3 linked regions of the Homo sapiens genome follow. The protein of the gene in region 2 purifies or fractionates together with the protein of the main gene of each other region. This does not show direct contact. Each region holds a gene or a part of one and is shown on either strand. Other genes may lie near its edges. The genes, in order: STX18, VAMP4 and NAPG.

The links.
Region 1: the proteins of VAMP4 (region 2) and STX18 purify together in Homo sapiens (affinity purification with mass spectrometry; 3 studies listed by BioGRID and IntAct, with this or other methods). This does not show direct contact.
Region 3: the proteins of VAMP4 (region 2) and NAPG purify together in Homo sapiens (affinity purification with mass spectrometry; 3 studies listed by BioGRID and IntAct, with this or other methods). This does not show direct contact.

What each region holds. Positions count from the first base shown.
Region 1 is NC_000004.12:4,532,000-4,535,655, reverse strand, and holds part of STX18 (syntaxin-18), read left to right. Parts: intron 1-3,656. UniProt on the Homo sapiens protein: Syntaxin that may be involved in targeting and fusion of Golgi-derived retrograde transport vesicles with the ER.
Region 2 is NC_000001.11:171,718,010-171,721,665, reverse strand, and holds part of VAMP4 (vesicle-associated membrane protein 4), read left to right. Parts: intron 1-2,444; coding exon 2,445-2,495; intron 2,496-3,656. UniProt on the Homo sapiens protein: Involved in the pathway that functions to remove an inhibitor (probably synaptotagmin-4) of calcium-triggered exocytosis during the maturation of secretory granules.
Region 3 is NC_000018.10:10,546,371-10,550,026, forward strand, and holds part of NAPG (gamma-soluble NSF attachment protein), read left to right. Parts: coding exon 1-34; intron 35-1,928; coding exon 1,929-2,008; intron 2,009-2,596; coding exon 2,597-2,726; intron 2,727-3,656. UniProt on the Homo sapiens protein: Required for vesicular transport between the endoplasmic reticulum and the Golgi apparatus.

The sequences.
Region 1 (3,656 bases), on a different chromosome or scaffold from region 2:
TTAGCTAATGAAATAAGGAGCAGCTTTGGTAAAAGCTGGAGTGAGAGGTTTGGGGAGAGAGGTTCATTCGCCAGCCTACTACCCTTCTGTTACCTTCCCCCTCTCCTTGAGGAACCCCTAGGAACCAACCAGAGGGCCCAGAGACACACAGTTTAAAAACCACTGCTTTAATGCTCTCCAGGGCCTGTTTTAGCTTCATGATGCTGTGTTTTTATGGATTGCAATAACTGAGTGTGTACTATAAGGAGAGCTCAGCACTGCAGAGTTTTCATGAGATTGTGAGTCCTTTGTGTGGATTACACTTCTGAATTTTGCCCAAGACTTAGGAGGACTGTAAGTTTTGAAATGTATTTATTCAATAATTGATTTATACCATCATCCAATAAACACTGAACATCTGGTGTGTCAGGCATTGTGGGGCCATAAAAAAACTATGAGGCATATTAACCTGTTCTTTGAAAAGATAGATAAAGGATACCTAAATCTCTTTAGGGGAGAATCAGTGGAAACCTCAAAGTGATCATCAAACTTGGCTTTTAAGGAGAAAAACCATTCCACCAGACGTAGGTAGAAGGGATGGGTGTGAGCAAAGGCAGTGGCACACAACAGTAGGGCAGTTTGGGGCCAGAGGCAAGACTGGTGTGACTAGAGCCCTTTTCTGGAGGAGGCCCGGGTGAGGGTCAGAGTGTCAGGGGGTGAGGTTGTACTGAAGTAGGTTAGAGCAGGGGTCCACAAACTGGCCCACAGGCCAAATCCGGCCCACTGCCTAGTTGTGTAAATAAAGTTTTATTGGAATATGTCATTTTCATTTGTTTAAATATAGGCCAAGAATGCTTTCATGCTGTAGCAGCAGAGCGATAGCCTGCAGAGGCCTGCAAAACTTAAAATATTTACTGTATGACCCTTTAGAGAAAAAGTTTGCCAACTCTTAGATGAGAGCGTTGTTAGCAGTGCTGAGGAGTTTGTACTTTATGCTCTGGGCTATGCGGCAGAGGCACGAAAGGATCATGTTTGTATTTTAAACTAATCCGCAGTGTTGATGATGGGTTTGGAATGTAACAAGACTGACATGGAGAGCTAAGCAGGATGCTGTTGCAGTAATTCAGGTGAAACTGAGGAGCCGGTGACAGTAGGGTTGGATGGGAGAAAAATAGATGAAGTAGGTATTTAGTATTTAGTAGGTAGGCTCAACAAACTTAGTAAAACTTAGTAACTAATTAGTGGAAATAGAAAGAGGAGGAGGTAGAATAATTTCCAGCTTTCTGGTTGAAAAGTTAAATGGTAGAAGATTACAATAACAGAGTTTTCAGGGTTAGAGTTGAGTGCCAGTTATTCATGCCTTCTTCTTAATTCTAAATAGTAGAGAATAGATCCAAGGAGCCCATGGACACTGGAGTTTTATTAAGACAGCATGTGGTGGATAACTCCCCAGCAGCAGTGCTTACTGATAAACCTGGATTGAGGAACTCAATGGGGTCCTTCAGCTTTGCCACATTTAGACCTTGGAGACAGTTGAGTACAAAATAGATACCCAGTGCCTATGTACCTATGCCCAGCCAGTTGCATGGAGATTGAGACCTGTCTCAGCAATACGGCCATCACTAGGCTGGGACTTATGGTGGCGAGAAGTACAAGGAGGTAGAAACTTAGGATGGCCCGTGTGGATGCCAGGTTCTCTCCTGTTATTCTCAGTTCTGCTTTCTTTATTCTTGAATGAAACTCATCTTGGGGTTAATGATTATATCACATGTTGTAGAAGCATGATTCTCAGGGATAGTTGATTCATTTTCTCCTGCATTCCATGAAGAATCTGGAGTGTGTCAAAGAGTTCCCTCTTTCCTCACTTTTGAGTTGGCAGTTGACCAATTATTATGTGTCTCACCTACTAGGGTAGGGCTGCAGAAACACGTCTTCTCAGTGTGACGTTTTTAGTGAATTCTTCCCATCAGGGGCTGGCTTCATTTTGGAGGCCCAAGAACCAGATTTTTCTACATATTGAGGCTAGAGCCATCTGTTAGGGCAGATATCAGCCAAGCTCACGTCAACTTGTGTGTAAGTCAGAATACCAGTTAATTTGTTGTAAGCACTGTAACTAATGTGCAGAAGAATACAGATTTTGGAAACTCAGTCATTTTTGAGCTTCTGCTATAGGTCAGGAACTCGGTTAAGGACTTTATGTGCCCGATCTCATTTAATTTTTCTCTTTTTCAGGGGATAGAAATATATTATTGAGTGATTTTATAATATTGATTGTATTATGAATAATGTGGTTGTTGAATTCATGTAAACTTGATGTTTGACGTCTCTTACTACATGGAAATCCACATGGACTCCCTCTGGTGGGTAAAGTATCAGTGAAGTCTACACATGTTAATTATGGCTTATGGTATGAAAACCATTTTATGTTTAAAGCGTATTACATTTAATATTGACTTAAAAAGAGGCAACTTCAAAACTCCTCTAAAAGAAAGTGAATAAACCAGAGGAATGAAAGTATGATATATTGAATGAACCCAATAACTCAGATATGGAAAGCTTGCAGCACAGTTGAAATTTTAAACCCGGCAATACTTTTTTCTTTGTTACAGACTTTCAGATCCTCAAAGACTATGAATACTAAAGTTTGCCAGCTTCTACTTATCACCATCTAACATATGTCTGTTTGTCAAAATGTTCTTACCATGGAATTTGTAAGCTGTATTTAACCAAGAGAGAGACACTTCCATTTCACAATATTGTAACATTTCTATCTAATTTGTAGTCAAATGATAAGAAAACTCTGGTGAAATGAACACTTGCCTTTTCTTGGACATTTTCTCCAGCAGTGAATTCTATAGTCTTAGCAGAAGTAACAGGCTACAGCATATCTTAACTCAGAGGAATTGAGAAAGGAATTAAAAAGTGTACGTTTCGAATTGTAAATACTTTTGGCCTTTGCCAATAGCTTACTATGTGATCTTGGAGAACTCACCTAACCTCTCTGGGTGTCACTCTTCTGATTTTTTTAATGAGAGGTTTTGACTAGATAATCCATAAGGACCTTTTCAATGAGATGGTTGCATGACTCAGTACTCTTTATCTGAAAGTCCCAGGATGTATTTTTAAATACTTTTTGCAGTGATAACTGCCCATTACCTTGTGATATTTTCCCTGAGTCTCTGAAAGAGTGAGGTTTTTTTTTTGTTTTGGTTTGTTGTTGTTGTTGTTGTTTTCAAAGTTAGCATTTTTGGTGTGTTTTCACAAATGTATTTGATTTAAAAGTGGTGATATAATTTTATAATGGAATTTTATTAGCAGGGCACATTTTTGAAGTTGACTATTTTAAAATCTGATTATAAAATTAGTAAGTGCTCATTAAACAGAATAAAGAAGAAAATAGTTCACATTTAGTACCAGTGTCAGGAAATAGCCATAGTTAAAATTCTGGTGTTTAACTTTCCAAACATTTTTTCTGTTAAATAAAATCAAGATTCTTCTACAATACGGTTATGTAATCCCTCTCCATATGCCCTCCCCTCTTCCTTGGGGGAGTAGAGAGGGGTTACATAACAGTATTGTAGAAAACAATGTATTTTGGAAATTTTTAAATATCAGTATGTATTGCTCTTACCACCAGTTTATTTGGCTGCATAGCTATTAAAAATAGTAATAAATAA
Region 2 (3,656 bases):
CTTTGAAGCAATTGTGAATGGGAGTTCACTCATGATTTGGCTTTCTGTTTGTCTGTTATTGGTGTATAGGAATGCTTGTGATTTTTGCACATTGATTTTCATAATTTCTGATGCTACTAAAAATGACATTTCAGATGGTGTTTCAAAATTTTAAAATGTCATACTTATTGCTAGTATAAATATCATTTTGTAAATTAACCTTGTATTCTACAATCTTGCCAAACCCACTTAGTTTTAGTAGTGTTTTTATATATCCTACTGGATTTTCAACATAGAACAATTATGCTTTCTGCAAATAAAGACAGTTTTATTTCCTCCTCGTCTATGTTTGCCTTTTATTTTTTATTAGCTTATTGCTCTGATTAGAACATCCAGCACAATATTGAGTAGAGGTGGTGAGAGGGAATATCCTTGCTTTGTTCCTGATCTCCTTTAGGGGAAGCATTCATCTTTCATATTATGTTTCATTTTCATTGCATGTTGTTACTGTTGTTGTGTGTAGATTTATCAGGTTGAAGAAGTTTCCTCCTATTCCTAGTTTGTGAAGAGTTTTTATCATTAGCTGACGTTGGATTTTGTCAAGCATTTATTTTGTATCTATTGAGATGATCATTTTTTTTGGTCTGTGAATGTGTTGAATTATGTTGATTTTGAAATTTTAAACCGTCGTTGCATTTGTGATATGAACCCTACTTGGTCATCATGTATTATTCTTTTAAAACATTGTTAGAATCAATTTGTTAAGAGTTTGTTAAGAATTTTTGCATCTATGTTCATTAGAGGTATTGGTTGGTTGATAGTTATGTCTTTTTCTTGTTGTGTCTTTATCTGGTTTTCGTGGTAGGTTCATACTGGCCCTGGATAATGAGTTGGGAAAGTTCTGTCTTTTTTAGTTTTCCAGAATAGTTTGCATAGAATTCTTATTTTTTCTTCATTAAATGTTTGGTAGAATTGACAACTGAACAAATCTAGTCCTGGAATTTTCTTTGGGGGATTTTTTAAAAATAATTTTAGACCCACAGAAGGGTTGCATAGATAGTATAGAGAGTTCCTATCTACGCTTCACTTAGCTTCTGTTAATAAATCTTATATAACCATGGTACATTTGTCTGTAGTGATGTTCACTCTTCCATTCCTGTTACTAATTTATGCCTTCTTTCTTTTTTTCCTAATCAGTCTGGCTAGAAGTTTATCAAGTTTTAATTTTCAAAGAACCAGCTTTTCATTTTGTGTTTTTCTATAAGTATTTTGAAGTCTCATGTTACTTGATAGATGAAACAGACATAGCTCCTGCTTTTTTTTTAACCTGTAGTGGGGATCATTTTAATTCAGTACTTTTCAGATTCTATTTCACTTTATAGTTTCCTCATTTAATGACTGCTTTTCTTTGTTTTTCGGTTGACCAGCTCTTGTAAGTTCTTGCCTAGTTTTTAGGAATGGCCTCTGGTTCAGAATATTAGTTTTCTCTATGAAATTCAATGTTTAACATCACTTTGGAATGGAATACTGTTCCAGTATTCTGAGGCTTAGTTGGAGCTTAAAAGACTTTAAGGAAAAAGCTTAGAGGAACTAAGGCAAGATGATATATTCACACTTATACATTATGTTAAATAAGTTTCAGTAAACAGTTTTTTTTTCCAAAATTTTTTTATCAATTGCTGTATTTTTTCACCTCCTTTAGAAATTGCCATGTCTAGAAATCTAAGAACCTGGTTTCTTTTGAGTTTTGTAGTTTATGTCTTATTTATTCTGTATCTCCGGAAGAATCATGATTACTTTAAATAACCAAATGTTTTCATTTCAAGAATATTAAAATGGATTGGTTAAGGTGTGATATACACTCAACTACAATAAGGAGATAATAATCTGAGTAATGTTAAAATTTTCTTAATATCTTGCATTTCCCTTTTGCTATGTTGATAAGTTTAAGATGAATAATCAAAAACATACTTAAAATTGTTAGTGTCTTCAATGAATTTTTCTCTATATCCATCTTTGTCAATCGGCAGTTCACTTTGTAGTTTCCTCATTTCATTATAGTCTAAATTCAAGATGAATTGCGCTTTTAGTTCTACAGTTGACCATAAAGATATTAATATTCACTAGCAGTTAAGTAGTTAGGATATTTCAGAGTTTAATGATCAGAACAAATTCTGTGTAAGTTTGTTATATAAGATAATATAAACCCTAATTTCTCTGAAAGTTTTAACATGCAGAAGAATTAGCTTAATTGTGGCTAGTAATAAGTGCCAATGAAGTAAAGACATGATTACCTATTATTCAGTTTCACCAGTATCAGTAAAATGTGGTCCCTTATGATAAATAACTGATCCATGTTTAGAGTTCAGCTTGATTGTTTGTATTTGTGTATACTTTCTATCTTTTTTTTGTTTTGTTTTAATCCTGTCACTACTAATATGTACTTGGTATGTACTTGTTTTCAGAAGGGGACCATCTGGACCAAGATTTGGACCTAGAAATGATAAAATTAAGCAGTAAGTTTTGTTCATTTGTTTAAATGATAATCATATTTCTGTGTAGACTAGAGATTGGCAAACTGCAGCCTGTGAGCCAAATCTGGCTGCAGCCTGTTTTTGTAAATAAAGTTTTATTGGAACATAGCCATGCCCATTTGTTTTCATATTATCGATAGGTACTTTCAAGCTACAATGGCAAAGTTGAGTAGTTGTGACAAAGCTGTGTCACATTTTATGGCCCACAAAATCTAAAATATCTGCTGAGTGTCTGGTCCTTTACAGAAAAAGTTGTTGACCCCTGATGAAGACTAAATATAACTGCTGGGTTATAAAAACCTAATTCATTTTATTTTCTCAGAATTATAGCTAAGGAAATGCAGGATTGTTGGTTTTTTTATGACTTGATTACCTTATGTCAAATCCATTTATTTAGCATAGTCTGAAGGTCTATTTTGGTTTTAAATCTGTAGCTTGATTCCTATTTTCAGAATGATAACAAAGGTAATATAATAGCTTTAATTTGTTGATGTACTGCATGTTTTTATCTACTTCCAGAATTTTTTCATATCTCTTATTTATCATAACCCATATATTGAACTAAGTTTTATGGCTAATTTGTGGTTTAAAACCTTTGAGGTATATATTATTTGGTGATAGATGAGTATAATATGCTGTAATCAATGTGTCTGATATCGGAAAGATATGAGTCCTGACTGGAGGGGAGAAGGAATAGACAGAGCAGTGAGTCACTTGAGGGAAGGCTCTGGAAACTGACCAAGCTGTAAAGACTAACTGTGGAATGTGAACTGCATGGCCCAGGTTCAAGACCTAAGGAGGGATAATAGTCACTACCCTAAGCCTGGGTATAGATGGCACATTGTGGGAAGGGTTCTATAATGAAGTATCTAGTTATTGGTGAGATACTTGGGCTTTACTCAGGTAGCTGTTGGTGTGAAGAAATATTTCCATACTTAGCCTAATTCTAACTAATGGATTTTGAGATATGGAACCAAAGAACCAATAAATGATTACAGGTACTAGACTGGGTGTATTAGTTTTCTATTGCCATGTAACAAATTACCATAAACTTAGCAGCTTAAAACAACACACATTTATCATCTCACAGTTTCCTTGGGTCAGGAGTTCAGGCACTTCTTAGGTGAGCCTTTTGCTCAGGTT
Region 3 (3,656 bases), on a different chromosome or scaffold from region 2:
TAAGGAAATTGAGAATTATCCAACTTGTTATAAGGTATTCTTTGAAAGTGTTTGTTTTTGGTATTACATTAGATGATTTTTTATACTGGTATGAATAAGTACTTAAGAAAGGATTCTATGGGTATTTCTATGTTTTTGTAAAATAATACTTCATGGGCCTCTATTTTTGACCAAGATAGAGTAAGCCCACTACAGCTTGTTTCTCTGCTGATTACAGCTAAACTACTGGATAAAATACAAAAGCAACCACCCTTGAACTCTGAAAAGTAAATAAAAAGAGACTAAGGAGAGGAGCAAACACGTGGAGAAACAACCACCATGGGAATGAGTTTCTCGGGTTTTTTTCCATTTCCTCTTGCAGCATTCATTGCCCTGCCCTGAGAGAAGCCCACAGTTGTGGAGCTGGGCAGCAAAGGCTGCAACAATGAAAACTCCAAAAGAAACCCCGCCTTTCTAACCAGCAATGGGAGAAGAGGTCCCATTGTTTTCCTCTCCTTTGGCTTTGCTCCAAGCTTGTCCCAGGCATGGAGCTACACTGTGATGATGGCTCAGGTTGATAAAACTCCACAAGGACCCCAGTCTCTTTTGCCAGAGGAACTAGGAAAATGAGCTAGAGAGCAAGGAGAAAATTCCGGAAAGGAGAGAGCTGGAAACGGAGTCCCCTGAGTGTGGATGTGGCCCACACAAGTCTTGGGTTTACTCTTCAGCTGTGCTGAGACAGGCCTCAAAGTAGCAGTGCAGCGCAAAGCTTGGAGAGCTAAGATTTCATCACTGTCGAAGTGTTGCACTGCCCTCTGAAGGGCTTATGCATGGAACAGGCCCAAAGCCACATAGCAAAGGATTTGAATTAAGTGTAGAACTTCCATCCACCAAAAACAAGGCACCACATGTAGTCTGAACCTAACTGGGGTGATTACCTGCTGAAAACATCTGTACTCTCCTGAAAATTAAGCAGAGGCTGTGCAGCATCACATTCACAGTACAATCCAGAATTACTCAACATGCAAGAACCTGGAAATATGACCAGTTTTCAGGAGAAAAGACAACTGATGGCAACCCGGCAGTGACCAGGGTTGTTGGCATTATCACATAAAGACTGAAGCAACTATAAGTTGCTCCATGAGGTAAAGATAAACACAATTAAAATGAATAGAAAAGAGGACCTGTTGTTTTTTATAGGAAAAATTATTTTTATAGAAACTATAAAAATGAACTAATTGGGAATTTTAGGACTGGCAAATACATTATTGAAGTAAAATAATTGGATAAGCTTAATCTCAGAGATGACAGAAGGAAGACTTTGTGAACTTAAAGATAGATCAGTAAAAGTTACCTAAACAATAGAGACACCAAAAGATGGAAAAATACTTCATGAAGACCTATTTTTCCAGTAATTTATCAGTCATATCCTTGATCTTATTACTACTTTTATTGTTGACTTATCAATACTATCATTGTTTCTGTTATCTGAAGTTTTCACTCATACATCTTTTTCCTAGTTTCTTTTTAAGGATTCTAAGTATCATTGTGGTGTTACGGGTCCCCCCCACTTCTTTTTTATTCACTTTTCAAGATTGAATCTGTGTAGATATTTGAAAGAGATCTCTTTAAAACGTGGTTGTGATCTAAGGCTTGTGTCAAAGTGCGGTCCCCAGACCAGCAGCAGGAGTGCCCCCTGGAATTTGTTAGAAATGGGTGAATCCCAGGCTTGCCCCTAGCAGCCAAATTCCAGGACATGAGAATTGGAAAAGTACTGTTCTAGGATATTTCCCCTCAGGTGTCCCGTGGAAGTTACTATAGCATTTATAAATCTCTGTTTATACAAACAAAGACTCTGAAAGTTAAACTCCAGGTGTTTTCAATACTGCCAGGTTATTGACTTTATTAAACAGATGTAAATTTGACCATGATCCTCTCTTTTGTTTTAGAAAACAATTGCTCAAGTCTTAGTTCATCTACACAGAAATGACTATGTAGCTGCAGAAAGATGTGTCCGGGAGAGCTATAGGTAAGACGTTGTCTGGGCCCTCTTGACTTGCAGTGGCGACACCTCTGTGTCTACAACTAAGATTGCTGCTAGGACACATGTTCCTGGCCATGAAACTGTCATTTCTAAATCTTAGGAGTGCTCATCTACCATTTCATCTTTTACAGTGGGTGTTTTACACCTTTTTTTTTTTTCCCTTTCCTGTATTTTTCTCTAGGGGACCTCCATGGAAGTGAATGACTTTAGTCATTTTAGTCATTTTATTTGCCTTCTAAGAAAAAAAGAACAAGAAAAAGGGGGAAAAAATTATCAGATTTATGTTACAGAAATCAAAATGAGGAATTTTCTCGGTGTTTAACATGAGCAGTCTTAATCTCAACACTGTTAACATTTGGGCTGGATAATTCTTTGTGGTCGGGCCTGTCCTGTGCACTGTAGGCTGGTTAGCGGGATCCCCGGTCTCTGCCCTCTAGATGCCACTAGCATTCCCACACTTTTAAGTACCAAAATGTCTCCAGACAGTGTCACATGCCAGGGGCAGAATCATCCCTGCCTGAGATGTGTTCTTTTAAGGAGAAGGTGAAGACGTGTGATTTGTGCTTACTGCAGCATCCCTGGGTTCAATGGCAGTGAAGACTGTGCTGCCCTGGAACAGCTTCTTGAAGGTTATGACCAGCAAGACCAAGATCAGGTGTCAGATGTCTGCAACTCACCGCTTTTCAAGTACATGGACAATGATGTAAGTGGACCCATTTGCATAGCTTTCATCTTTTCTCTTGAAAGAAAGAGGTTTCTAGTGAGATTATTTTTTACCCATGTACTTAAGAGATTTTTTCCTACCTCTTTTTTTCTTCTCAAGCTACTACTCATAAGGAAACTGACCACTTGCATTGAATTTCACCATAGATTTAGATAAAATAGATGTTAGTTGTGTGGTGTATAGCCATTTACTCACCCATCTAACTCTGTTGACCATATACATATTTTAAAATTGAGGCTCATTTCTCCACTTTTCCTCTATCTGTTGTCCTCTGTAGGTTGCTTTTATTCATTTCTTTTAGACGGACTCTCTGAAAGAGGTCCATTCTGTAGTGGCCTTTGTAATTCAGTAGACCTATGAAAATCTGTGAGGACTAGCTGTGTGTTGCAGGTCATTAATTATCTCTAAGCCTCAGTTAATTCATTTGTAAAAATGAAGCCACTAGTACCTGTCTTGCTGGACTGTTGTGAAGAATACATTAGTCAGTGTGTGAGAAATATCCTCACATGATGTCTTGCACATAAAGTGAACCATGACTATAAGTTTTTATTTTTTCTCATTTGTCTTTTTCAGTAGATTTGTAAGTACCTGTTTGGCCTTAGGCCTTTAGAGTATCATCATAGTATCAGATCAACTTAAGGCCTTCAGTTGTTTATTATAATGATATATGTAGATAATTTTTTTTCTAAATAACGTCTTACATAGGTTTTGAAAATATATATATTTCTAAAGTTTTAATTAAAAAAAATTTATAATTGAAACTTTTACTAGTTGTGTACCTGTCCCACCATGGTCATGAGGCATCTGGGGAGCAGCATTGTTGGGCTTTGTTTTTCCATCTGAATGGTAGAATTGGTGTTCCTGAGGGTGGGGAGCCAGGCTGTGTCTTTTTAGAGCTGAGTAAAACAT